7 linked regions of the Homo sapiens genome follow. The protein of the gene in region 5 purifies or fractionates together with the protein of the main gene of each other region. This does not show direct contact. Each region holds a gene or a part of one and is shown on either strand. Other genes may lie near its edges.

Region 1 (3,500 bases), about 220 Mb from region 5:
AGGCCCTCTCTGTCCTTTCCCGGGCCTGGCCCAGGCCTGACTAGGAGGTGGGCGATGGTTGAAGATCAGCCAGGAGTTCCCCTGGGGTCCTGCCAGCCCTCTCAGAGGGTTCTTGCCGGCCCCCCACTCCCTGAGCCCCAGTCCCCCCCCCCCACCCCAGAGCCTATGTGTCCCTCTTCATGCGGCACCTGTGTGAGCCGGGGGCGGATGGTGCAGAGACCTTCGCAGACGGCGTGCCCCGGGAGGGCCTCTCCAGGCAGCACGTGCTGACCCGCATCGGGGTCATGTCACTAGTTAGGAAGAAGGTGGGTGAGTAACTCTCTGTAGGGCCCTTCCTGGTGGCTGCCTGGGCTCCTGGTGCTGTCCCTTGTGGGTCAGTGGTCAGAGAACAAGTGCCTGGTTCAGGCCACACAGCTGCCCAGGGTCCGAGTCACTCCAGAGGGACTGACCTGGAAAGCCTTTCTGGGTGAGGGGCCTGTGGGGTGGAGGCCAGGATGGTGGGTTACATACAGTTGGAGGACACACAGAGGGTGGGAGGGTGGGCAGGGGAGCTTGTGGTCAGGAGGGGCCTGGCTTGGCCAGCCTTGGGCGGAGGTAGCAGCTACCCCAAGCCTGTGACACTTTCAGCCCCCCTGGCTGCCCTGAGGCCCTTAGGGCTGAGTTGCCACCACTGCCCTCCCTCTTTCCCTTCCACCTTCCCTCCCACCACCCCAGGTTCAGGAGTTTGAGCATGTCAACGGGAAGTACAGCACCCCAGACTTGATCCCTGAGGGGCCCGAGGGGAAGAAGTCGGGCGAGGTGATCTCCTCGGACCCCAACACACCAGTGCCCGCCAGCCCTGCCCACCTCCTGCCAGCCCCGCTGGGCCTGCCAGGTCTGTGGGCTGGGCGGGCCGGGGAGGGCACTGGGGTCATGGAAAGTGGCAAGGTCACAGAAACCCCTAGTCTAACCCACAATCCCACAGAAGACGGCCTCTCCTTCCCCCAAAGCCTCTGTTTGCTGAAATGTCACTCTACAGAGAGTTTTCCATTTTAATGACAGTTACGAGATATAATTTATATACATACTGCAAAATTCACTCTTTTAAAAAACTGGCTGGGCGCGGTGGCTCACACCTGTTAATCACAGCACTTTAGGAGGCTGAGGCGGCAGGATCACCTGAGCTCAGGAGTTTGAGACCAACCTGGCCAACATGGTGAAACCCCGTCTCTACTAAAAATACAAAAGATTAGCCGGGCATGGTGGCACGTGCCTGTAATCCCGGCTGCTCGGGAGGCTGAGGCAGGAGAATCGCTTGAACCTGGGAAGCGGAGGTTGCAGTGAGCCAAGATCACACCACTGCACTCCAGCCTGGGGGGACAAAGCAAGACTCCATCTCAAAAAAAAAAAAGTACTATTCAGTGATTTCTAGTATATTCGTAGGGTGTACAACCATCGCCACTGCCTAAGGCCGGAATATTTTCATTCCCCCTGAAAAAGAAACCCTGTACCCATTAGCAGCCACTCCTTATCCCCCCACCCCAGGCCTGGGCAGCCACTAACCTGCTTCCTGTTTCTGGATTTCGCAATGCTGGATGGTTCGTGTATATGGCACTGCACAGTGCGTGGGCCTTTCTGTCTGGCTTCTGTCACTCAGCCTGGGGGTTCCAGGTTCATCCACATTGCAGCGTGCATCAGTGCTTCAGTCATTCTGTCATTCTGCCTTATGGCTGATAATGTTTTCTTTTTCTTTCTTTCTTCCTTTTTTTTTTTTTGAGATGGAGTTTCGCTCTTGTTGCCCAGGCTGGAGTGCGATGGAGTGATCTCGGCTCACTGCAACCTCCGCCTCCCAGGTTCAAGCGATCCTGCCTCAGCTTCCCGAGTAGCTGGGATTACAGGTGCCCGCCACCACACCTGGCTGATTTTTGTATTTTTAGTAGAGACGGGGTTTCGCCATGTTGGCCAGGCTGGTCTTGAATTCCTGACCTCAGGTGATCCACCCTCCTCGGCCTCCCAACGTGCTGGGATTATAGGCGTGAGCCACCGCGCCTGGCCGATAACGTTTTCTTGTATGAATTTACTGCATTTTGCTTATCCATTGCGCTGTCGATAGATTTTGGATTGTTTCTACTTTTTGGCTGCTGTGAATAATGCTGCTGTGTTTTATGTTTTTGCGTGGACATACGTTTTGAGTTCTTTTGGGCAGATATCTAGGAATGGAATTGCTGGGCCGTGTGATAACCCTGTTTTCCCTTTTGAGAAACTACTAGACTGTTTTCCAAAGCAGCTGTACCATTTTACATTCCTGCTAGTATTGTGCGGGAGTCCCAGGTTCTCCACGTCTTCAGCAGTAATTGTTCTCTGCCTTCATGGTTCTAGCTGTCCTGGGAGCATGAGGTGGTGTCTCACTGTGGTTCTGATTGGCATTTCCCTGATGCCAAGGACGCTGAATGTTGTTCGGTGTGCGTATTGGCTGTTTGTAGACTTGTAGAAATGTCTTTTCAGATTCTTTGCACACTTAATTGGGTCATTTGTGCCCGTGTCACTTTGGTGATCTAGGTATTTATTTGGGTGAAGCAAATACCTGTTAAGTACTTGGTCCGTCGGTTGGGCCTCACAGGCCTGGGGCGGACATAGCTATCCCATGGTGATGGGTGAGGCCAGGCCCTGAGAAGCTGCACCTCCAAGCACAAGGGAGCCCTTGGAGGTGGACACATCTTGGTTTGCTTCTTGGCTTTGGCCTGAACTCTGTCTAACCTTGGGCAAGTCACCTAACCTCTGTGGGCCTCCGCTTTCCCGGCTGTGCCCACCTCCCGGGGCTTCTCAGAGCTGTGTAAGTGACCAGCACTTTGCAGTGTGTTGGCGGCTGGCTTGGCAGGGAGGAAATTCACCCCCTGTCCAGAGGCACACACCAGCCAGCCCGCCCGAAAGCTGGGACCAGAGCGGGTGTCGTGGCTCCCAATCTGGGCCTCCATCTGCCTCACTTCCCTGCCTCCAGATGAGCAGCCACGGCTGTGTGCGGCCCCGTCCTGACAGCCCCTCACTTTGGTCTTACTGGGTTCAAGGTCCTCCAAGCACTCCTGAGTCAAAGGCCTGGCCTGGCCTCTCTGACTTAGCCGGGGATCCTGCTTGTCTCTCCTGGAGGTGCTTGGCTGCAGTGGAGCCTCCCGAAGGCCAAGCCCCCATCTCTCCTCTCTGCCACCCCACTCCCTGCCCTACTCCTTCCCGTCTGAGCCCACCTGTCTCAGCTCTTTCCCTTGATCTTTCAGACAAAATGGAAGCCCAGCTGGGCTACATGGATGAGAAAGACCCCGGGGCACAGAAGCCAAGGCAGCCCCTGGAAGTCCAGGTGTGGAACTTGCTGGCGTCTGGGCCTGTGGTGTGTGTGGGGTGGAGGTTGGGTCTGGGGACCTTCTCAGGCCCTGTACAGCGAGGTGGAACCCAGGCCTCCTGGCTCCCTTTTCGGGGCTCTGAATCGGCGGGGAGCAGGCTAGGAGCAAGCGACGGGAGCCAGGAGACTG
Region 2 (3,500 bases), on a different chromosome or scaffold from region 5:
TCTCTTCTTCCCACAAGGATGTTGTCAACTGATCGAAATTTTAACTTATTTTGTTAAATATCATAATAAATCACCAAATTACTATATATGACTCAACCCGTCTTTAAAAACTCTAATTCTGTGACTATTACCACTACACACATTCATCTAAAAATGTGGCTCCTTAAATTTCCAACCAACTCACATTTCAAAATATCTTTTAAAAACAAGAAAATAACTTCTAATGAGAGCACAACCAATGATTTTATACAACCACTCCCAAAAGGGAGAGAAACAAACTACAGTCTTACAGCTTTCTACCATTTCTAATGTCTTCTTCCCAGTATGATTTTTTTTTTTTAAGATGGTCTTGCTTTGTTGCCCAGGCTGGAGTGCAGTGGCGCCATCTCGGCTCACTGCAACCTCCACCTCCCAGATTCCAGCGATTCTCCTGCCTCAGCCTACCAAGTAGCTGGGACTACAGGCCATGCGTGCCACCACACCCAGCTAATTTTTTGAGTTTTTAGTAGAAACGGGGTTTCACTGTGTTAGCCAGGATGGTCTCGATCTCCTGACCTCATGATCCACCCGCCTCGGCCTCCCAAAGTGCTGTTTTTTATCCACCAAGACAATGCTACATTTGTAAATACTAATATTTGCGAAGATCCCGTCTCATTTATCCTTCTTCCAGCTATACCCATACCCAAGCCTGAATTCAAATTATTTTAGCCTCAAAAATGTAATGAAATACTAGAAACTTACTCTTTGTTCTTTATCTCCTATCAAACAAACAGATCTAAGTGTTGGTACCCATCTCTTGAATTCACTCATCCAGTTGTGTAATGTAGACTTAGGAACCAAAACCATATGAGGCCCAGGAATGTTTCTATAATGTTTCATGTACCCAAGAAGAGAAATTGTTTGAAGAGTCTTTCCTAGGCCCTGAAAGATTTCAAAATAACCATGAAGCAGTGAAAAATGAAAATATTATTTCACAATTATACCTCCCAACATATAGAAATGTTCAAAAGAAATGCTACATATTTATAACAGTTAATAAATGGCAAAAACTTAACATATATCAAAGTTTGTAAGTGTTATGTCATATAATTTTCACAAGTCTCTAAAGGAGGTATTATTATCACCCGCATAAGGCCCCGTTTAAGTGACATTCCCAAAGTCATCTAGCAGAGCTAGCATTGAAACACATTTCTTTTGACTTCATACTTTCTCCAACCAATTAAACGTTTTAGCATTATAGCAATAAGGAAACTTTTTTAAACATTCATTACATAACTAGTAGTTAACAAAAGATAAATGTTTTCTAAGAATTGTACAAGCTACCACCTGGAAAAAACATTTATCAATTATAAACAATTAATGACCTCACTTTTGTTTTACAAAACTGGAAGCAAATAAATCATTGTACTATAAAAGTCATCCAAAAACATGTTTCTCAAATGTATTCTTTTTAAATTTATCATATTTTCAGCGATGGAAATTTCTCACAATTAAAATACAGATCACACTTATGCAACTAAGGCAAGCTGCTTATACTAGTTTCTGAGAGGATCCATTTGCTAACAGTTGTAGACTGTAAGAAACTTTTATCAACGTATAAGATATTTTCAATACAAAACATACCCTTCAAAAAAAACTACCAACACATACCATTTCATCTGCAAGGATACCATTGATGCCATTCTCATACAAAGAAATGAGCCAGTTTAATCCTCGGACCTGATAATCTCTCAGTTTACCCCATTTTACATCTAAGAACAAAAGAAAAGCACAATAGGCATTTTAAGACAAGAAATACAAGGCAATCTCTTCATCTAAGCCTACACATATCTACTGACTTTATTTTCATTACTAACGGATTCTTGAATAGGAACTCTGCAAGTTCCAAAATACTAGAGGTAGCTGCCATGGTCTGAAGTGGAAAAGCTGGACATGGAAGATAATCAAGTGCGGGAAACATGACTGCGGGCATCAGAGTACCCACTCCAACAACTCAGTTCTTACGTTACCCATATACTGGTCTGAGAGACTCTTTGGCCTCTCGTCTTTTTAATGAAAAACCAAGTGTTCCTAACCAAGTATTTTCAGCTTTCATAAAGACCAGATACAGGTTATCTGGGGATTTTATTTTCTTTCTAGTAAAAAAAAAAAAAAAAGAAATAGGAAATTCCTAAGTTACTTGTCCAATATATCTTATACATTCCAATGCACTCTCTTTCAGGGTATACTACTTATTTTGCTCCCCAGAATAATTACCAAATATACATAACGGTCACCTGATTTTTCTTTTTTAATATGTACACAGTGTAGCCCTCCATCTCCTTTTGAAAAACACTTGAGGATAAAAAGCTAACCAATAAACAAATACATTTCACAAAAAATTAAATTAATATAAAAACATCAGAAGTAAGCAAATGTGTTCATGAAGTACCTTTTTTAAAATAAATTAGTTTTCTTATGTGGGACAAATATAAAGCAAAACGATCCTTAGATTTACATATACTTCAGGGCAATAACAAACACAATGACATTTTATATAACTTTGAAATACAGCACTACTATCCTGTAATATGCTCTCATCTCCATCAAAATCTGAAGTTTATTTCATAACCAATAAACATCTAAGACTACTAAAAATTTGCTTCACAAATAGTAGCCAACACAAATCCAAAACATTAACCAAAGGAGATCTCAAAGGGCAATTTTTTAAAAAAATCAAGTGTGTTTAACATACACGATGGAGAGTCTTCAAATCGAGTGCAAACATTGGTTGCTTTGGAGCTTTCTGTTAATAGCTCTTCATCCTCCTCTTGCTCTGTTCTACGGTGTCGGTAACTGTTAAGATGAAAATAAAATAACCTGATTTGAGTTTTGGCTTTAATTATCAGCTACTGTTTAAACATCATAGTCAAGTGGCTGACCAAGATTCCACAAAATTAAATTTTTAACAGGCATCAACCAGTGGACAGTAGAAAATATGAGTACATTTAAATCTGCAATGTTTTAAATAATTATTTAAAATATACATTAGTTATTAAAATACACCAGTACGATACATTAACCAGAACCCAATAAACTCAAATATGATAGTCAAATTTCAAGAACTATGTAGTCAGAAAATCTCATTATTTGAATTTTAAAGTGTACCTTTTTAAAAATCTTTTTGCCAAGGAAAAAAAAGTTCCAGAAACCACATGTTTAAAATTGTAACTTCGAGCAAAAGCTGCAGCATAAGGACTCAGAAATTTAAGCAGTGACCACGGATTCATCAAAAAAATTTTTAAATACACATCTAAATTCTACATCCTAAGAGAATCAGATATACTACCCCCTTAAAAACTGATTTTCTAAAGTTTTAATACTGCCAATTAATCTCTAAAGGGCTTGGTTCAGTAAAACTATTAATACTTACTCCCCAATTCTGACACTTTCAACAAATATTTTCATCTTATTTAGAAAAAGGCACGTTATGCCTCTGTTGAGACCGCTGAATCTAATTT
Region 3 (3,500 bases), on a different chromosome or scaffold from region 5:
ATTGTTTGAGCTCAGGAGTTCAAGGCTGCAGTGAGCTATGATCACACCTGCACGCCAGCCTGGATGACAGCGAAAGCCTGTCTCGAAAAAAAAAATTGCTCTGAATTGACTATTATACCTAAAAGTTAATCCTAATGGTCAAATGGCAAGTCATAGGAATAAATAGACACCAAATAAGAGAAGACTGAGTGTGGTGGCTCACCTCTGTAATCCCAGCAATTTGGGAGGCCAAGGCAGGAGGACTGCTTGAGCCCAGGAGTTTGAGACTAGCCTGGGTAACATAAAGAGACCCCATCTCTATAAAAATTACAAAAAATTAGCCAGGCATGGTGGCACGTGCCTTTAGTTCCAGCTACTTGGGCAGCTAAGGTGGGAGGATTGCTTGAGCCTGGGAGGCGGAGGTTGCAGGGACCTATGATCACACCTGCACTCCAGCCTAGGCAACAGAGTGAGACCCAGTCTCAAACAAAATGGAAAAAAAAAAAAAGAGAGATACACCTATTTCTTAGCTGTCAATCTGCCAGATGCAGGGAACATACCAAAAAAGAGAAGGCATGGTCACTTCCTTCTGACATCAAAATAAGCATGTTTTGAGATGAACAACCCCAAACCTCCTTGTGTGGGGGGACCCACCCCTTATTCCAGTCCCTGTGAAATATACAGCCAAAGAAACAACATAACAAAGCCACATCTTTCACAGCTGTTTGGTACAGGGGTCACCACTCTCAATCTAACCAGGACGGATCAAATTCAATTCTTCTCCAGAAATCTGGAAAGCTGGGAGACAAAACTCAAGTTGAGACATAAGGTATCACCAAGTCTGGAGGCACTACCATAACAAGCTAGTCACCTTGAAGCTGAAGCTAAGGGGAAAGCACAGAAGGTCAGTCTGCAGGGAAGAGAATGAAGCAGGGCTGGGGCTACAGGGAAAAAGTAAAGGAGGCACCTGCCTCAGGGTGTCTCAGTATTTAATAGGGTGCAAAAAAGCTCAGCAATCAAGATAAATTACACAGTAATGCATACTATTTTTTAAAAATTAAAATTAATGTCCTAAAATGGAGCAGAGGCACAGAAAGAAGCCAAAGAGAGCCCTACAAGCAGAGAGAGGACAGAGACTTTCAAAGTGTCTGCTCTGGGTACCAGTGGTAGGTCATTTCACGGACCTCAGCAGCCTTACAATAGTAATGCAGTACAACTCCCAGCTCTGCCACCATACCATCTAGCAAGATAGCTTAAGTGGGTTTGTGTTCCCGGAGACCTAAACACCTTGACTAACATACTCTATTTGGGAAAATGAGACATGCACATAAAGTGCTTTTTGTTTTTTTCAAGAAAATATATAATTAACTGCCAAAAGAATGGTACTGGCTATTAGTGTACAGAAATTCAGAGATCACTGTGGGTGGTCAGGGAGGGACAGAATTAGCTACACAGAGAGGAGTGGAGAAGTATATACTAAACAAAGAGATCAAAGCACAGGCTGAAAAAGGTTGGAGCTGGGAGGGAATCCAGGGCAAGAAGAAGAAAAGTAAAGGGAAAGGAGCGATCTTCACACACCCTGTGTTACACAGAAGTAAGTACGCCTCCATGCTCTTCCGCCTGCAGCCCTTACATCACACGGTTCATTACACAGGAAATGTCCTTTTGCACTCTTTCTCATGTTCAAATCCTTTCACATCTTTCAGGGACCAGTTCAAGTAACATTTCTGCAGAGGCTCCCCTTGTGTGCTATACCAGATTCAGGCAGTGGGAGAAGAAAAGAGGAAACAGTTTCTTCTGAGGTAGGAGGGAAGGCTAAGGGGCTTAAAGCAGTGCCAGCTATTCTCTGGTGGAGGGCACACTATATCACTTGGAATGCTGGCCAATGTCTAAGGAAAGCAGGAAGTGAGATGACTTGACAAGGAATAATAATGGGGGTTCAAGAAAAGTGGCAGAGGAAAGGCAAGCACAGAGGGTGTGCTGAGGACTAACAGAAGAGCCCACCTGCCCCGAAGGCCTTGCAGAGGTGAAATCCTACACATCTGCCTTGGTCCATTTCTGTGTAGGGTTCTGTAATTTTTCACCAAGAAACTGTAAATCTTAGGGACAACAGGAGAAAAACAAAAGTGGGGTGGGCATGACTTTGAAATCATCACATATTTATTGCTATTTCCAGTGAAATTAGACCCCCAACTCCTCAGCTGGTCTAGCACTCAAGTGGGCACATTAAAGAGGAAAAAAAAAAAAAAGAATAGTTCCCTAAGAGTATTAACCTGGGTTAATTATAGCCCACCATGAATGAAAATAAATCTTGGGGGTTGTATCATATCTTGTCACGTTTGCCTCAGGGTAAGGGCTGCCTGAATATAAGCCAGACTCATATACATTTGAGGGGCTTCTTCTGAATATTCCTTAACTCCTCATCAAAGTTTTACCACCACACCCAGGGAATGAAAATATTTTGTTGGCTGTAATTTTCCACATGGATGGAAATCCCCTACTGTATAAGTATCACTAATAATATCCTGCTCAAAAGAATTGCTATGCTATGGTTAAGGAAATACAACAATCTTCTTACCTACAAGTCTATATATATATATATCAAACCCAGCCCTCATTTTCTTCTAGTTTACCATGTTTTTATTCACTTTCTCACAGACACTTCAGGAACTGTGTTCACTTGTATGTACTTATCATGATGTTCATGCTTAGTTATGCCCAGATATGAAACTGTTTATTTGTAGGGGGTTATCATCACTGTATATGTTACCTTAGTTTGTAAGTTTGTCTTAGTGTGTTTGTGTTCCTTCCTTAGTGAGTGGGTGCAGGTGTTGAACATATATACCCGAGGCAGTGGATATCTTTATAGCTCAAAAAGGGTGCACATCTCAGGAGGAACCTTGACTGTATTTCAGTATTTTTCTTTTTTCTTTTTTCTTTTTTTTTTTTTGAGACGGAGCATCACTCTGTCACCAGGCTGGAGTGCAGTGACATGATCTCGGCTCACTGCAACCTCCACCTCCCAGGTTCAAGCGATTCTCCTGCCTCAGCCTCCCGGGTAGCTGGGACTACAGGTGTGTGCCAACATGCCTGGCTAATTTTTGTATTTTTAGTAGAGACGGGGTTTCACCATGTTGGCCAGGATGGTCTCGATCTCCTGACCTCGTGATCCACCCGCCTCAGCCTCCCAAGGTGCTGGGATTATAGGCGTGAAAACGAATTCTTAAGAGTAGTATAAGGGTGAAAGAAGCCAGGCACAAAATATGACATATTATATGATTCCATTTATATGAGATGTCCAGAAGAGGCAAATCTTAAGAGAGAGTAGATTAGTGGTTGCCTAGGGCTGGGTGGGGGAGACCAGGGGGGAATTGGGAGGAATTAGGTAGTAACTGCTAATGGTAAGGGGTTTATTTCTGGTGTGATGAAAATGTTCTAAAATGGTGGTGATGGTTCTACAGTTCTGAATGTAGCAAAATCCACTGAACTGTACACTTTAAATGGGTGAATTGTATGGTGTG
Region 4 (3,500 bases), on a different chromosome or scaffold from region 5:
GTGCTTCTTCAGTATAGCCCCTTTTCCCCATTCCCTCCTAACCTCCTTTCCTGGACTAAGTTATGACAGTATATTGCCTTCAGAGTCTCTCCTCTCCATGCCCAAGTAAGGATCACTGTCAGATTAATCTTAAAATGCACAGATTTAGTCACTTAGCTTCCCTGTCCAGGAAAACCTTCAGTTTACTCACCATTTCTCATCTTTCAAGCATAAGAAAACCTTGCCTTTTGTCTTTCTAACTTTATAGTTTTTTTTTCTCCCATTAGATTCCTTTAGTTTTCAAATCCTTCAACCAAACTGGATTGTTTATTGTTTCTTAACCACACAGGATGTGTTTATTGCCACATGTCTACCCGTGCTTCCCTGTTGTATTGTTCTTTCTCTTTACTTGTCCATTTCCTCCCCATCTGTAACAGTCTGGGTCCAGTTAGGAGTTAGATACCATACATAGGTGAAATGGGAAATGTAATATAAAGAATTATTAACTATGATAAAAATGCAACTAAAAGATATACAGAAACTTTATAGATAGGGCTGAGGAAGGACCAACGTAGAAGAGGTTCAGAGCTTGCTGGAAGAGATGATATATTAAATACCTAAGAATATATCTAACTTAATAAGGGCAAGATCCTATATAGAAGACTATAAAGTGGAAATACAATTTAAAAACTCAATAAATAAAAGGATATAAGATTTATTATTACAATAATAAAAACTGTAAGGATGTCATTTGTCCTCTAAATCTCCATTGTCACAGAGCCAGCAATGCAGAGTGAATGTGGAACTGAGCAGCAGTAAATTGGTAACCGGCGTGCTTACCTGCGCACATGCCCTGACGCGTCCCTCTGTATTCTCTGTATCCTCTGTCATTGTGCTTTCATGCAGCATTATAATTTTTTCTATGCTGTCTGTTTATCCCACTTAGATTATGAACTCCTTGAAGGCAAGTACTATCTCTTCTTTATCTATATCTGCGGCCCTAGCCCAGTGCCTGGCACATAATACATTTAACACATGAATAAAAAAATGAATGAATGAAGGTGCTTTGAAAAAATCATGCAATGAAATCAAAATTTATCATTATCATTATTAGCTTCCAGTGTTCTAGTAATAGAGGAAATATGCTAATAGTTTCCAAGATGCCCATTGTTTATCAAGAATACAAGAGGTGGTTACTTTTCTTTGATTAACAGTGTTTGCTGACTGTACTTTCTCACCTTCTGTTCCCCCTTCAGGCTGCTTCCTGGCTTCCGCCTACGCTGCTCTCCTGAGTGTGTTCCTCCTGAGGTCATGAAATGACCTCTTGGTTGCCAAAGTCAATATACACTTTCAATTCTATCTTACTTGAATTTGGCATTGGTTCTGATGCTGGTAGCCACATCCACCTTGAAACTCCTCCCTTGGTTTCTGTGACCTGCTTTCTCCTGTTAACCTGTCTATTTCTCTGACCTGTCTATCTCTGACCTCTCTATATCTTCTCTATGGGCTCCTCATTCTCTGTCTTTTAAACAGTGTTCTGCTGCCTCAGTCCTCTTCTTAGTCTTCAAGTTCCTTTTGAACTGACATCCATGAGTGTCTCTACCTTCTGCATCTTGATGCTTCCCAAATCTGTATCTCCAACCCAAACCTTTTCACTCATTCTCCACACACTTGTCTAAGCACTACTGGACATCTCTCCTGGGAGAGTGTTCTTTTAGGGGTACCATTCTCATGGAATGTGGTGTGATTGGTCCCCCCGGAATGCAACTTCTGCATGTGTGTGTCTCATAGACACTTCAGATTTACCAAGCCTAAAATGGATCTTGTCCTTAGTTTCATATCTCACAGTTAATGCATCATCATCTCACATTTTCCCCTTTCTGTCATTAGTCTTCACTTTCCTTACCACTCCAAACTTGTTATTCCTTATTCCCGAATTCTTGAGTTTATTCCCTTTCTGTAGTAAGTTTGTGCATTTGTATCAGCCTCTACTCTAAGACAGAAATACCATCACCTTACTTCTCCGGTCACAATATTTACTGGCTTCCTATTACTTAACTGCAGGATGAAATTTAAACCCTAAGCGTGATTTATGAGACCCCTTTATTATTTCTCCCTTGCCTATCTCTGTTGCCTCCTGTCTTACCTTTTCTTCATTATTCTATATGGTCCCCTCCCCATGGCCCCCACAAGTGACACATGACTCTTAGCCCATCCCACATTTGGTTATGCCTTTGCCCACACAGTTTCCTGGGGCAGCAGTGTCTTCCTTTTTCTCCCTACTCATGCATACAAGCTACCTAATAAACACTTATTCCTTCTTCAGAGTGCCAGATGTCTATTCTCACCATCATGGATTCTTTGGTGCACCTTTGTGTTTCTATTGTATATTTTACATATTATTTGTCTCAGGACAATGTAATTGTTTCCATCTTTCTCTTCACTAGTATAATATCTTTATGGGCAGGGACTTACATTTTTATTTTTTTTTATCCCCAGAGTTTAGTATAATATCTGGTACTACGTATTTATTATTTCTCAATAAATATTTGAGAAAGGAATGAACCTTTCTTTGGTAATATGAGTATTTTTATTTGCAAAAAAAAAAAGTAAAGTGTGGTATGCCATATTTAGTAGAGATGTTAATTCTGAAATGATTATTATTTAATGTCCATTGAACTACTAGTTTTATATGACTACTTGAGAACTAAGTATAGTTAACGGTATTAATCATCAGATAACATTGCTGTATGAACCATAAGATTTTGGTATGTTTTGCAGATCAAGGATCTGGATTTTGCATAACTGGTAAAATAGAAGCTGGTTATATCCAAACTGGTGACCGACTACTGGCAATGCCTCCTAATGAAACTTGTACCGTGAAAGGTATTTATCTGCAAGATGCTTTTGCTAAACAAGCCTTAAGTTGAGACAGCAGATTTTTAAAAAGTGGTTTAGTTACAACTCCAAAGTAAGTAACCTCTTACTGAAATTGTAACTGACTGTCAAAATGATACTGACTGTTGAAGATTAAAATGTGAAAACATTAAACGATTTTTTTCTGTTGTGATTGTGTCTGTATATATATGTACATAAACATTCTAACTGTAGTAGCATTCTATTTTTGACACAGATCTGAGAAGCCTGGTTAGGATTTAATCAGATATGTATAGATACCTCACAGATGTATTTGGAATAATATTCTGTAGCAGAAATTAAATCTAGTCCCAGCCTTACCCTAACTAGTCAGTGGCAAAGCAGCCTTCTACAGTCTGTTACTTTGAAATGTATGTTTCAGAATAACTATAAATTAACAGCTTTGATCATGTTTATGCCAAAAATGTAGGTATATTTTATAGGAAGATATAAGTAACATTCAAATGGAGAAAAACCCAATGTTGAAAAGAGAAATTGAACTAGTTTAAATTGCCAGTCACTGTTTCTGCATATAGATCTAATTTTTTTCATAATGACTGATAATTGTTTCTGTCTTCTAATATATACACACATATATATATTTA
Region 5 (3,500 bases):
GAAAATGTTATGTAGCTTCTTCTCCAAGGTTATTTAGTCAGGACTCATCAGTTTGGTTATACTAAAGTGCTGTGTCGTTAAGGTCCAACAGAGAAATGCTAGTTCCTGGCAAATGGAAGACTTAAGTATAGATCCGAACCAGGGGTCTAGCAGATAGGGCTGGGGTCCCCTAAGGATCTCTTCCTCTGTGAGATAAAGTCTTGATTCTATCATAAAATACGATTTCTAAAAAAACTCTATATAACACATTTAACAGGCATAAAACACAAATGTATTATGAAATACTACTTACGAGAACTTCATAGTCAGGGATGGTATGGGTTCCAAGCCCTGTCCTATCAAAAGTTACTCTATAAGTAGCATTAAGAGTATCCACAGCATCTATTTGTCCAGTGAACAAACCATCATGAACACCACGTAATCGTGCTGAGAAAAGAACAAAGGCATTATGATGTGTGGGAGATACAAAGAATAGTCAAATATAAAACTGTTCCAAGCATGTAATTTAAATCATAGTACAGTATTTTGTCTATTAGAGTTTCAAAACAAGCACACACTTTATTTTTGGCTTAGAGAAACAACAAAGAATTTTTGAAACAAAAACAAAAACTATAAATGATGATCCCTAATTTCATATTTGAATAAAATTATATTACTCCCAAATTAAGAGAAAAATATTTTAAATCATTTAACTGCAAAAAAAACAACAAAAGAACTTTGGTCATTATACTCATGAGTGAAGCACCAGGAGTAGTTCAATTTAAAAAAAAAGACAAAGATGTTGTGTAGAAAATAATTAAAGAAGTTAATACTGCAGGCCTGATGCTGCTATACTTAGGAAAACCTCCTTGCAAGGTTGGCCTTTGTCTGGTATCTGGGAACTTGGATTTCGGAAGTGTTCCCACTGTTCCCTAATTAATAATGGTGGTTTTACTGTGTCTAGATTGTGCAAACGATGTGGTTAATGCTGGACACCTGCTTTCCCTCTGGAAGACTGGAATTTTAGTATGTACTAGGCAAAAGATGCCTACATACTCAGCCCCCAGTAGAACTCTGGTCACTGAGTCTCTAATGAGCTTCCCTGGTAGACAACACTTATAAGCATTGTGACAACTTGTTTCTGGGAGAATTAAAAGTCTTGCATGACTCTATTGGGAGAGGACTTTTGAAAACTTGCACGTGGTTTCCTCTGGACTTTGCCCCAAGCACCTTATTCTTTTGCCAATTTTGTTTTGTGTCCTTCACTGTAACAAATCTTACCCATGAGTACATGTGCTGAGTATTCTGAGTCTTTCTAGTGAATCACCAAAACTAGTAGTCTTGGAACTGATGACACAGATGAACTGTGTCACTATTATTTAAGTCCAGCCTAAAATAACATCAGAGAAATCCAAACAAACATCCAGCATGAGTAAAAAATTTAAGAACAACAGCATTGATGGCTGTAAACTGGGCAAAGTAATACATTTTATACTAACCAAAAAGTATAATACACAACATTTTAATAGAACACAGAAATACACAATGCAAGACTGTTTAAAATAAAAGGATCAATTGATAAAAACACAACTGTAGAGGACTAAAATCTCTCTCAGTTTCTGACAGATCCTTTAAGGGAAAAGTAAACATGGATACAGAAGATGTAAATAATGAAGCTGAGTAAACAAATATAAGCATAGAAAAGGACTACTAGTTATGGTGGCATGAAGAGGCTGGTAATTCCTCTCCACAAAAAACAAGTACAAACCTGAATGAGATTGTGAAAAACAACCATTCCAGGGTACTGGAAATGGATCAAATGTAGAAAACAAGAAACGTTTATTGTTGAAGAAGTGCTAGAGCTTCAGGTTAGGGCAGGGGGACTCAGTGGCCTCTTTGCACGAGGTTATTCACACACCCACTACTACCACCAACGTGGTCGATGAGAATGGTTTTATTAGTTCAGGGTTGGTCACGAAAACCAGCCAGAATTTTGACTGGTCATGAAAGACAGCCAGAAATTTAACAGGGAGATCATGGAAACTAGAGAGCCATAAAAGGGCGGAAATAAGCTCTCTACCATCCCTGGCTAACTGGGTTACTATGCAAATGGAGGGGGAAGATCCAATAGTCTGGCAAAAAGTAAAAGCTAAGGATGACTTGAAAACTAGCAGCAACTTTGTATTTACATTCCCCAACTCACATATAAATCAATGTGAGGCTTTTCCCGATCAAGATGTTTGAGCATAACCTCTGTTCAAATCATTAGGTGACCACTAAATTATTATTATTATTTTGAGATGGGAGTCTCGCTCCGTTGCCCAGGATGGAATGCAGTGGCACGATCTCGCTCACTGCAACCTCCACCTCCCGGGTTCAAGTGATTCTCCTGCCTCAGCCTCCTGAGTAGCTGGGATTACAAGTGCCCGCCACCACACCCGGCTAATTTTTTTTTGTATTTTTAGTAGAGACAGGGTGTCACATGCTGGCCAGGCTGGTCACAAACTCCTGACATCAGGTGATCCGCCCGCCTCAGACTCCCAAAGTGTTGGGATTACAGGCGTGAGCCACCGCACCCAGCCCTGACCACTAAATTATATGCAGACACAGGGGTAACTCTTTGGAAATCAAGTTTAATAATAATAATAAATATAAGAATAAAAAATGAAGCAGAGACATCAGTATTTGCATAGCCAAGTTATTAAAGCAAATCCAACAACTCTCCAAAAAATTAGAATACATAGTTGCTACAATATATTATCTGAAATATCAAGTTTTCCACCAAAAATTACTAGACATGTAAAGAAGTAGGAAAGCATGGCTCTTAAGAAAAGTACAGTAAGAAATTGAGAGAGATATTTAGCAAAGACTTAAAAAAGCAGCTGTTATAAATATGTTCAAAGAATTAAAGTAGGCTGGGCGTGGTGGCTCACTTTGGGAGGCCCAAGAGGGTGGATCGCTGGAGCTCAGGAGTTCAAGACCAGTCTGTGCAACATGGTGAAACCCCATCTCTACAAAAACATACAAAAAAATTAGCCAGGCATGGTGGCATGTGCCTGTAGTCCCTGGAGGCTGAGGTGGGAGGATTGCTTGAGCCCAAGAGGTAGAGAGGTAGAGACTGCAGTGAGCCAGGATAGTACCACTGCACTCCAGCCTGGAAGACAGAGCAAGACTCTGTCTCAAAAAAAAAAAAAAAAAAAAAAAAAAGGTTTGTGTATGTATGTACTTTTTTCCTATTCTCTTCATTTCTGTTTTTTGAAAAATTTATTTGATAAATAAAATCTTTTTTATTTCTTTTCCATTTACTCCTTTAGATAACCTACAGAAAATCCCAGATAACCTGGAATTATCGTTCATTTTACAAAGATTACTTTTAGGATAGTTCAGATTCTTATAATTTCTTAACAAATCAATGATTTTAATATCTTTTTTAACACTCTCATTTCTCCAGGGGTAAACAACTGTGGCTTAAGTATGACGTCTCAAACAACTTTCTATATACTGTAGCTAAAGTATCATGT
Region 6 (3,500 bases), on a different chromosome or scaffold from region 5:
CTCCTGTCACCCAGGCTGGAGTGCAGTGGCGCTATCTCAGATCACTGCAACCTCTGCCTCCCGGGTTCAAGTGATTCTCCTGCCTCAGCCTCCAAAGTAGCTGGTATTACAGGCACACGCCACCATGCCTGGTTAATTTTGTATTTTTAGTAGAGACAGGGTTTCACCATGTTGGCCAGGCGGTCTTGAACTCCTGACCTCAGTTGATCCACCTGCCTCAACCTCCCAAAGTGCTGGGATTACAGGCGTGAGCCACTGCACCTGGCCCTCATAATTCTTTAAAATGAATATTCATAGAACTCATTTTTCCAGCAGTTGAATTCAAACATCAGTTTACTACTAAGTAGTGCCTTAACTCAACCAGCTTTTACATTTTCACCATTTTATGTTCTTGGGCAACAGGTCTAAACTAATCAGACAACAGGTTGGCTCACAGTACATACTCTGCGAATGCACTTTCTTTGATGAAACACTCGAAGGGGACTCCCATTTTTTGTTTTACTTATTTGAAAAATACTGATTTCATGCCCAGTGCTTTCCATGGCTGTACTAAAACTCTCACAATAGGTTATTTTGAGATAACTAAGAATAGGTCAGTAGTGACTGTTTCATGAATTGAGATGACATGTTAATATTTGTTTTTTTTCTTTGAGATGGAGTCTCGCTCTGTGGCCAGGCTAGAGTGCAGTGGCGCAACCTCAGCTCACTGCAACGTCTGCCTCCTGGGTTCAAGCGATTCTTGTGTCTTAGCCTCCTGAGTAGCTGGGATCACAGGCGCATGCCACCATGCCCAGCTAATTTTTATATTCTTCGTAGATACTGGGTTTCACCATGTTGGCCAGGGTGGTCTTGAACGCCTGACCTCAAGTGATCCACCCTCCTCGGCCTCCCAAAGTGCTGGAATTACAGGCATAAGCCACCACACCCGGCCATGAAATTAGTTCTTCAGAAAAACTTATCTTTGAATGGTAGATATGGCTTATTTCTACCATTTTCACTTTTTTCCTCCTGCTTTATTAGCTAAAATAACACGCAGGCTATGAGACCACTACTTTAGATATAGATGTAATTATTGATTATTATACCACTTAATCTAGTTATAGCGGATGCTCTGTCAGATCTTACCATGTCATTGAATTGTTTTAGGAATTAACTATTTAAAGTTTTGGTTTGGACAGATAGTAGGTTTTAATTGAGCATCTATTATGTGCCAGACACTGTGAGGGATACAGTTCCAAAGAAAACCCACAGTGCGACCAAATAGTTCTCGTATGAAATTTGCAGTGTCTGTAGTCCCACCTACTCGGGATGCTGAGGCACGAGGGTTGCTTGAGCCCAGGAGTTTGAGGTTGCAGTGCTGTGATTATGCCACTGCACTCCAGCCTGGGTATCAAAGCAAGACCCTGTCTCTTAAAAAAAAAAAAAGAATCCCTTCAGAGAAGGAGTTTCGTTCTTGTTGCCCAGGCTGGAGTGCAATGGCGCGATCTTGGCTCACCACATCCTCTCCCTCCTGGGTTCAAGTGATTCTCCTGCCTCAGCTTCCCGAGTAGCTGGGACTACAGGCATGCGCCACCACGCGTGGCTAATTTTGAGTTTTTAGTAGAGACAGGGTTTCTCCATGTTGGTCAGGCTGGTCTTGAACTCCCAACCTCAGGTGATCCACCCACCTCAGCCTCCCAAAGTGCTGGGATTACAGGCATGAGCCACCGCGCCCGGCCAGGTTTTTTTTTTTTTTTAAACATCTGGGGATGATAATGGTACCTATTATTGTTTTGAGAATTGAGGTAATTATATAAATCACTTAGCACCCTGTCCCTGGCTCTTACTAAGCACCCAATACTCAGCAGAGAGGGTGTTTAGTGGGGAAGAGGGAACTATTTAGACAACACTGTGCAATTTGCTATAGTGCTATGGAGTCTTAGGAAGGTGATGAGAAATTATTTTCTTTAATGTGATGGCATATATAGAATAAATTTTGTTTTTGTTTTTGTTTTTTGTTTTTTTGAGACGGAGTCTGGCTCTGTCACCCAGGCTGGAGTGCAGTGGTGCGATCTCAGCTCACTGCAACCTATACCTTCTGGATTCAAGAGATTCTCCTACCTCAGCTTCTCAAGTAGCTGAGATTACAGGCATTCATCACCATGCCTGGCTAATTTTTGTATTTTTAGTGGAGACAGGGTTTCACCATGTTGGCCAGGCTGGTCTCAAACTCCTGACCTCAGGTGATCCACTTGCCTCGGCCTCCCAAAGTGCTAGGATTACAGGCATGAGCCACTGTGCTTGGCCAGAAGAAATTTTTAAAATTGAAACTGATGTAGTTGATAACTTTGTCTAAATTGGCAGTTTACCTGGGCGGTCGACAATTGGGGTAATATGTGCTTTGGGTGACTTTCACTTTGTGGTGACTGTTGCATTCTGCATTGTCCATTATGGGAGGCTCATTAAAAGTTGGAAGAAGGCCGGGCGCGGTGGCTCACGCCTGTAATCCCAGCACTTTGGGAGGCCGAGGCGGGTGGATCATGAGGTCAGGAGATCGAGACCATCCTGGCTAACAAGGTGAAACCCCGTCTCTACTAAAAATACAAAAAATTAGCCGGGCGCGGTGGCGGGCGCCTGTAGTCCCAGCTACTCGGGAGGCTGAGGCAGGAGAATGGCGTGAACCCGGGAAGCGGAGCTTGCAGTGAGCCGAGATTGCGCCACTGCAGTCCGCAGTCCGGCCTGGGCGACAGAGCGAGACTCCGTCTCAAAAAAAAAAAAAAAAAAAAAGTTGGAAGAAATAGGCCAGGCTTGGTGGCTCATGCCTGTAATCCAGCACTTGGGGAGGCTGAGGCAGACGGATCACGAGGTTAGGAGATCGAGATCATCCTGGCTAACACGGTGAAACCCTGTCTCTACGAAAAATACAAAAAATTAGCTGGGCATGGTGGCATGTGCCTGCAATCCCAGCTACTCGGGAAGGCTGAGGCAGGAGAATTGCTTGAACCCGGGAGGCGGAGGTTGCAGTGAGCTGAGATCGCGCCACTGCACTCCAGCCTGGGTGACAATGTGAGACTCTGTCTCAAAAAAAAAAAAAAAGTTGGAAGAAATAATAAACACTTGAAACTTTATGATTATTCAAATGATACATGTTCATTTTAGAATATCTGCAAAATGTAGGCAGGTGGAAATCTAAGTGACACTTTTTAATGCTAAGCTCATGGAATATCTTATTGTATAATACTTAAATCTGCATGTTGAAGGGTGACAGGTTTGGCACAAAGCAGAGTTTCATAATCTTTACCAAATCATCTTCTCAGTAATGTAGCAGTTGGATATTGCCTTGTTGGATGCTGGCCCTGTGTATTATCCTTCATCCTTTTCGGAAGTCAAGCTCTTCAAATTAGATGGCAGATAGTAGAATGGTTTTTTTTTTTTTTTTTTTTTTTGAGCCGGAGTCTTGCCCTGTCTCCCAGGCTGGAGTGCAGTGGCGCAATCTCGGCTCACTGCAACCTCTCCCTCCT
Region 7 (2,831 bases), on a different chromosome or scaffold from region 5:
GCTACTGTCCCTGGCCAATTTTTGTATTTTTAGTAGAGATGGGGTTTAATCATCTTGGCCAGGCTGGTCTTGAACTCCTGACCTTGTGATCCACCCGCCTCGGACTCCCAAAGTGCTGGGATTATAGGCGTGAGCCACTGCGCTCGGCCTAGAGTTAATTTTTCTAGTGGGGTGTTTGCTGGCAAAGTAACAAGTTTCCAACAAGGGGAAGGCCAATGCACCTCATCAAAATGGGAGAGTGGGAAGGAAGGCCTGTGACAGAACTTTACCTGTGCATCCTACCACCCGCCCTGTGTCCTAATCCCAGCTAGTACTGGAGACAGCAGGTAAGGGTTGAGTCAAATATGAAATAGGAATTTTTAAGTGGAGAAGTGGACTCAGGACTAAGTCTTATTATCTGAAAGTGACTGAAAATTACCTGACAAATGTCAGAGGGGCCTATGACCCAAACGTAATTACTGGAAAAATAAAACATTTGAAAGAACTGATTGGAGACGAGATAACCAGTAATTTCGGGTTTATTAAACTTATTAGAAAGGGGCCATCTGCAGAGCCACCACTTACTGTCCACTCATTACTGAAAACTCTGTTTCCATAGTGACCTAATTATACTTTATTTAATGCAACTTTAATGAATGAGAGAACTTTTTTTTTTTTTTTTTTTTTTTTTGAGATGGAGTCTCGCTCTGTTGCCCAGGCTGGAATGCAGTGGTGCGATCTCGGCTCACTGCAACCTCCTCTTCCTGGGTTCAGGCAATTCTCCTGCTTCAGCCTCCCAAGTAGCTGGGACTACAGGCGCATGCCACCACGCCGGGCTAATTTTTGTATTTTTAGTAGAGACTGGGTTTCACCGTGTTAGCCAGGATGGTCTCAATCTCCTGACCTCGTGATCCGCCCGCCTCAGCCTCCCAAAGTGCTGGGGTTACAGGCGTGAGCCACCGTGCCCGGCTGAGAACATTTTACATATATGCGAAATAGCTACCCAGTCCTGATCGACTAGAGCACTGAGTGACACACATTAAATGTTAAGTTTGAAAAGACTGTAAAACATTCACATATGACAGCTCTTAGTGAAGTAAGAGCCTCTCATATTCCATAATTGTTTGAAACATCCAGGAGAGCTAGGTCCCGTATCTCCTCTAGAAGTGTGTATAGGCTCCTTCCCTTTGTTTGGCGATATTCTTGATATTCCTCCTGAATGATGTTTACTTTGACTTCTTGGGCAAGCTGAGCTTCTTCCACAGATTTAGTTACTTCTTTCACTAACTCACTCTTCAGCAAGGGGGAACTCTGATGAATAAGTTCTGTATTTGGTATCTTGTATGGTTTGTTACTAATTATTTCAAGTCTGATTGTATCAGAATGGCAACGTGAGGCCTGTATGGATATTCTTACCTAGCATAGAGAAGAAAATACATATTACTAAATCACATTATTTATTCCTTACATTTAAAATATTAATAATACTTAATAGAAACACAGACTTACGGTTACATGGTCAAACAAATGGAACGTAACAGATTCCCCATCTGTTGTAGTAGAGGTAATTTTGTTTTGAAATCGTTGAAGGGATCCTGGTTTCCATTCAGAACAGCTATCTGGGCCACATGAGATGACTAAACCATCTTTATTTTTTAGATAAGCAGCACCTTTAATCCCAAACCTATATTATGACCAGAATATAAATCCAGAGACAATGTATTCTTAGTACACAGATCTTGTATGCTTATCTAGAATACTAGTTTTTCTCCTAGATTAAAAACAAATCACTTTTCCTGTGGTTTACCTCCACGTATTTATTTCACCTTAGCAGATGGAAACAAAGTATTTTGCTGGATAAGAAAGACCCTAAAATGGATATAGAAGTGTGTGTGTATATATATACACACACACACACACACACACACACACACTCCAGTCTTCACTTTTTTTTTTTTTTTTTGAGACAGAGTCTTGCTCTGTCGCCCAGGCTGGAGTGCAGTGGCACGATCTTGGCTCACTGCAACCTCTGCTTCCCGGGTTCAAGTGATTCTCCTGCCTCAGCCTCCCAGGTAGCTGGGATTTCAGGCATGCGTCACCATGCCCGGCTAATTTTTGTACTTTTAGTAGAGACGGGGTTTCACCATGTTGGCCAGGCTGGTCTCGAACTCCTGACCTCAGGTGATCCGCCCACCTTGGCCTCCCAAAGTGCTGGGATTATAGGCGTGAGCCACCCCTGGCCTCCAATCTTCACATTTATATACTGAATTATACATTACATTATGTACATATGATAACTAGTTGCTTAAATATTTTAATAAATTATATCTAATGTACAGTTTGTGTTCTACACTTTTAACTATGATTTCTTATGCACCATTGCATTAGATGTAACATACCTTGGTATAAATAGAAGCACACCATTTGTTCTAATTGAATAAATAACTCCGTCAGATATGCAACGCTCCTCGGTGGCAGGGTCTTTGTCTTTGAAGTACATGCACTGGAAGAGCTCAGTAGACTGCTTCTGAGAATGCTGTGCTGCCTGTAAGAAGCACAACTCCAAAGCATTTTAACACTCCCCTGGCATTCCCCAAAGAAACGAAATTCATATTCATTCAAATGTGAGATTCTGTAAAACTATTAATATAAAAATTGTTCTCTACTATGAAATTAAATTACTTTTTGTGGGAACTTAACCATCTAGTATTATCTCCTCAAAAATGTCTTAGAAAATGAATTATTTTATAAAATGAAACCCATTTATAGTTCATGAAATTAGAGATCAGCAAATTTGGGTCATGTTCACCTTGGGTACAGGAAAAGTATTACACATGTCTTACTTGCATTTC

What was found.
Region 1: the proteins of LIN9 (region 5) and CHD5 purify together in Homo sapiens (affinity purification with mass spectrometry, with the first as the bait; one large-scale study listed by BioGRID). This does not show direct contact.
Region 2: the proteins of LIN9 (region 5) and SMARCA5 purify together in Homo sapiens (affinity purification with mass spectrometry, with the first as the bait; one large-scale study listed by BioGRID). This does not show direct contact.
Region 3: the proteins of LIN9 (region 5) and TMOD3 purify together in Homo sapiens (co-immunoprecipitation; one large-scale study listed by IntAct). This does not show direct contact.
Region 4: the proteins of LIN9 (region 5) and HBS1L purify together in Homo sapiens (affinity purification with mass spectrometry; 2 studies listed by BioGRID and IntAct, with this or other methods). This does not show direct contact.
Region 6: the proteins of LIN9 (region 5) and SLMAP purify together in Homo sapiens (affinity purification with mass spectrometry; 2 studies listed by BioGRID and IntAct, with this or other methods). This does not show direct contact.
Region 7: the proteins of LIN9 (region 5) and DIS3L purify together in Homo sapiens (affinity purification with mass spectrometry; 2 studies listed by BioGRID and IntAct, with this or other methods). This does not show direct contact.

The regions. Positions count from the first base shown.
Region 1 is NC_000001.11:6,121,322-6,124,821, reverse strand, and holds part of CHD5 (chromodomain-helicase-DNA-binding protein 5), read left to right. Parts: intron 1-160; coding exon 161-305; intron 306-714; coding exon 715-874; intron 875-3,248; coding exon 3,249-3,328; intron 3,329-3,500. UniProt on the Homo sapiens protein: ATP-dependent chromatin-remodeling factor that binds DNA through histones and regulates gene transcription. May specifically recognize and bind trimethylated 'Lys-27' (H3K27me3) and non-methylated 'Lys-4' of histone H3.
Region 2 is NC_000004.12:143,523,702-143,527,201, reverse strand, and holds part of SMARCA5 (SWI/SNF-related matrix-associated actin-dependent regulator of chromatin subfamily A member 5), read right to left. Parts: intron 2,836-3,500; coding exon 2,735-2,835; intron 1,752-2,734; coding exon 1,651-1,751; intron 922-1,650; coding exon 742-921; intron 1-741. UniProt on the Homo sapiens protein: ATPase that possesses intrinsic ATP-dependent nucleosome-remodeling activity.
Region 3 is NC_000015.10:51,836,153-51,839,652, reverse strand, and holds part of TMOD3 (tropomodulin-3), read right to left. Parts: intron 1-3,500. UniProt on the Homo sapiens protein: Blocks the elongation and depolymerization of the actin filaments at the pointed end. The Tmod/TM complex contributes to the formation of the short actin protofilament, which in turn defines the geometry of the membrane skeleton.
Region 4 is NC_000006.12:134,981,823-134,985,322, reverse strand, and holds part of HBS1L (HBS1-like protein), read left to right. Parts: intron 1-2,760; coding exon 2,761-2,865; intron 2,866-3,500. UniProt on the Homo sapiens protein: GTPase component of the Pelota-HBS1L complex, a complex that recognizes stalled ribosomes and triggers the No-Go Decay (NGD) pathway.
Region 5 is NC_000001.11:226,267,665-226,271,164, forward strand, and holds part of LIN9 (protein lin-9 homolog), read right to left. Parts: intron 427-3,500; coding exon 293-426; intron 1-292. UniProt on the Homo sapiens protein: Acts as a tumor suppressor. Inhibits DNA synthesis. Its ability to inhibit oncogenic transformation is mediated through its association with RB1. Plays a role in the expression of genes required for the G1/S transition.
Region 6 is NC_000003.12:57,759,309-57,762,808, forward strand, and holds part of SLMAP (sarcolemmal membrane-associated protein), read left to right. Parts: intron 1-3,500. UniProt on the Homo sapiens protein: Associates with the striatin-interacting phosphatase and kinase (STRIPAK) core complex, forming the extended (SIKE1:SLMAP)STRIPAK complex.
Region 7 is NC_000015.10:66,331,568-66,334,398, reverse strand, and holds the end of DIS3L (DIS3-like exonuclease 1), read right to left. Parts: exon of another isoform or gene 2,531-2,831; intron 2,525-2,530; coding exon 2,379-2,524; intron 1,664-2,378; coding exon 1,489-1,663; intron 1,396-1,488; coding exon 1,087-1,395; 3' UTR 501-1,086; downstream 1-500. UniProt on the Homo sapiens protein: Catalytic component of the RNA exosome complex which has 3'->5' exoribonuclease activity and participates in a multitude of cellular RNA processing and degradation events.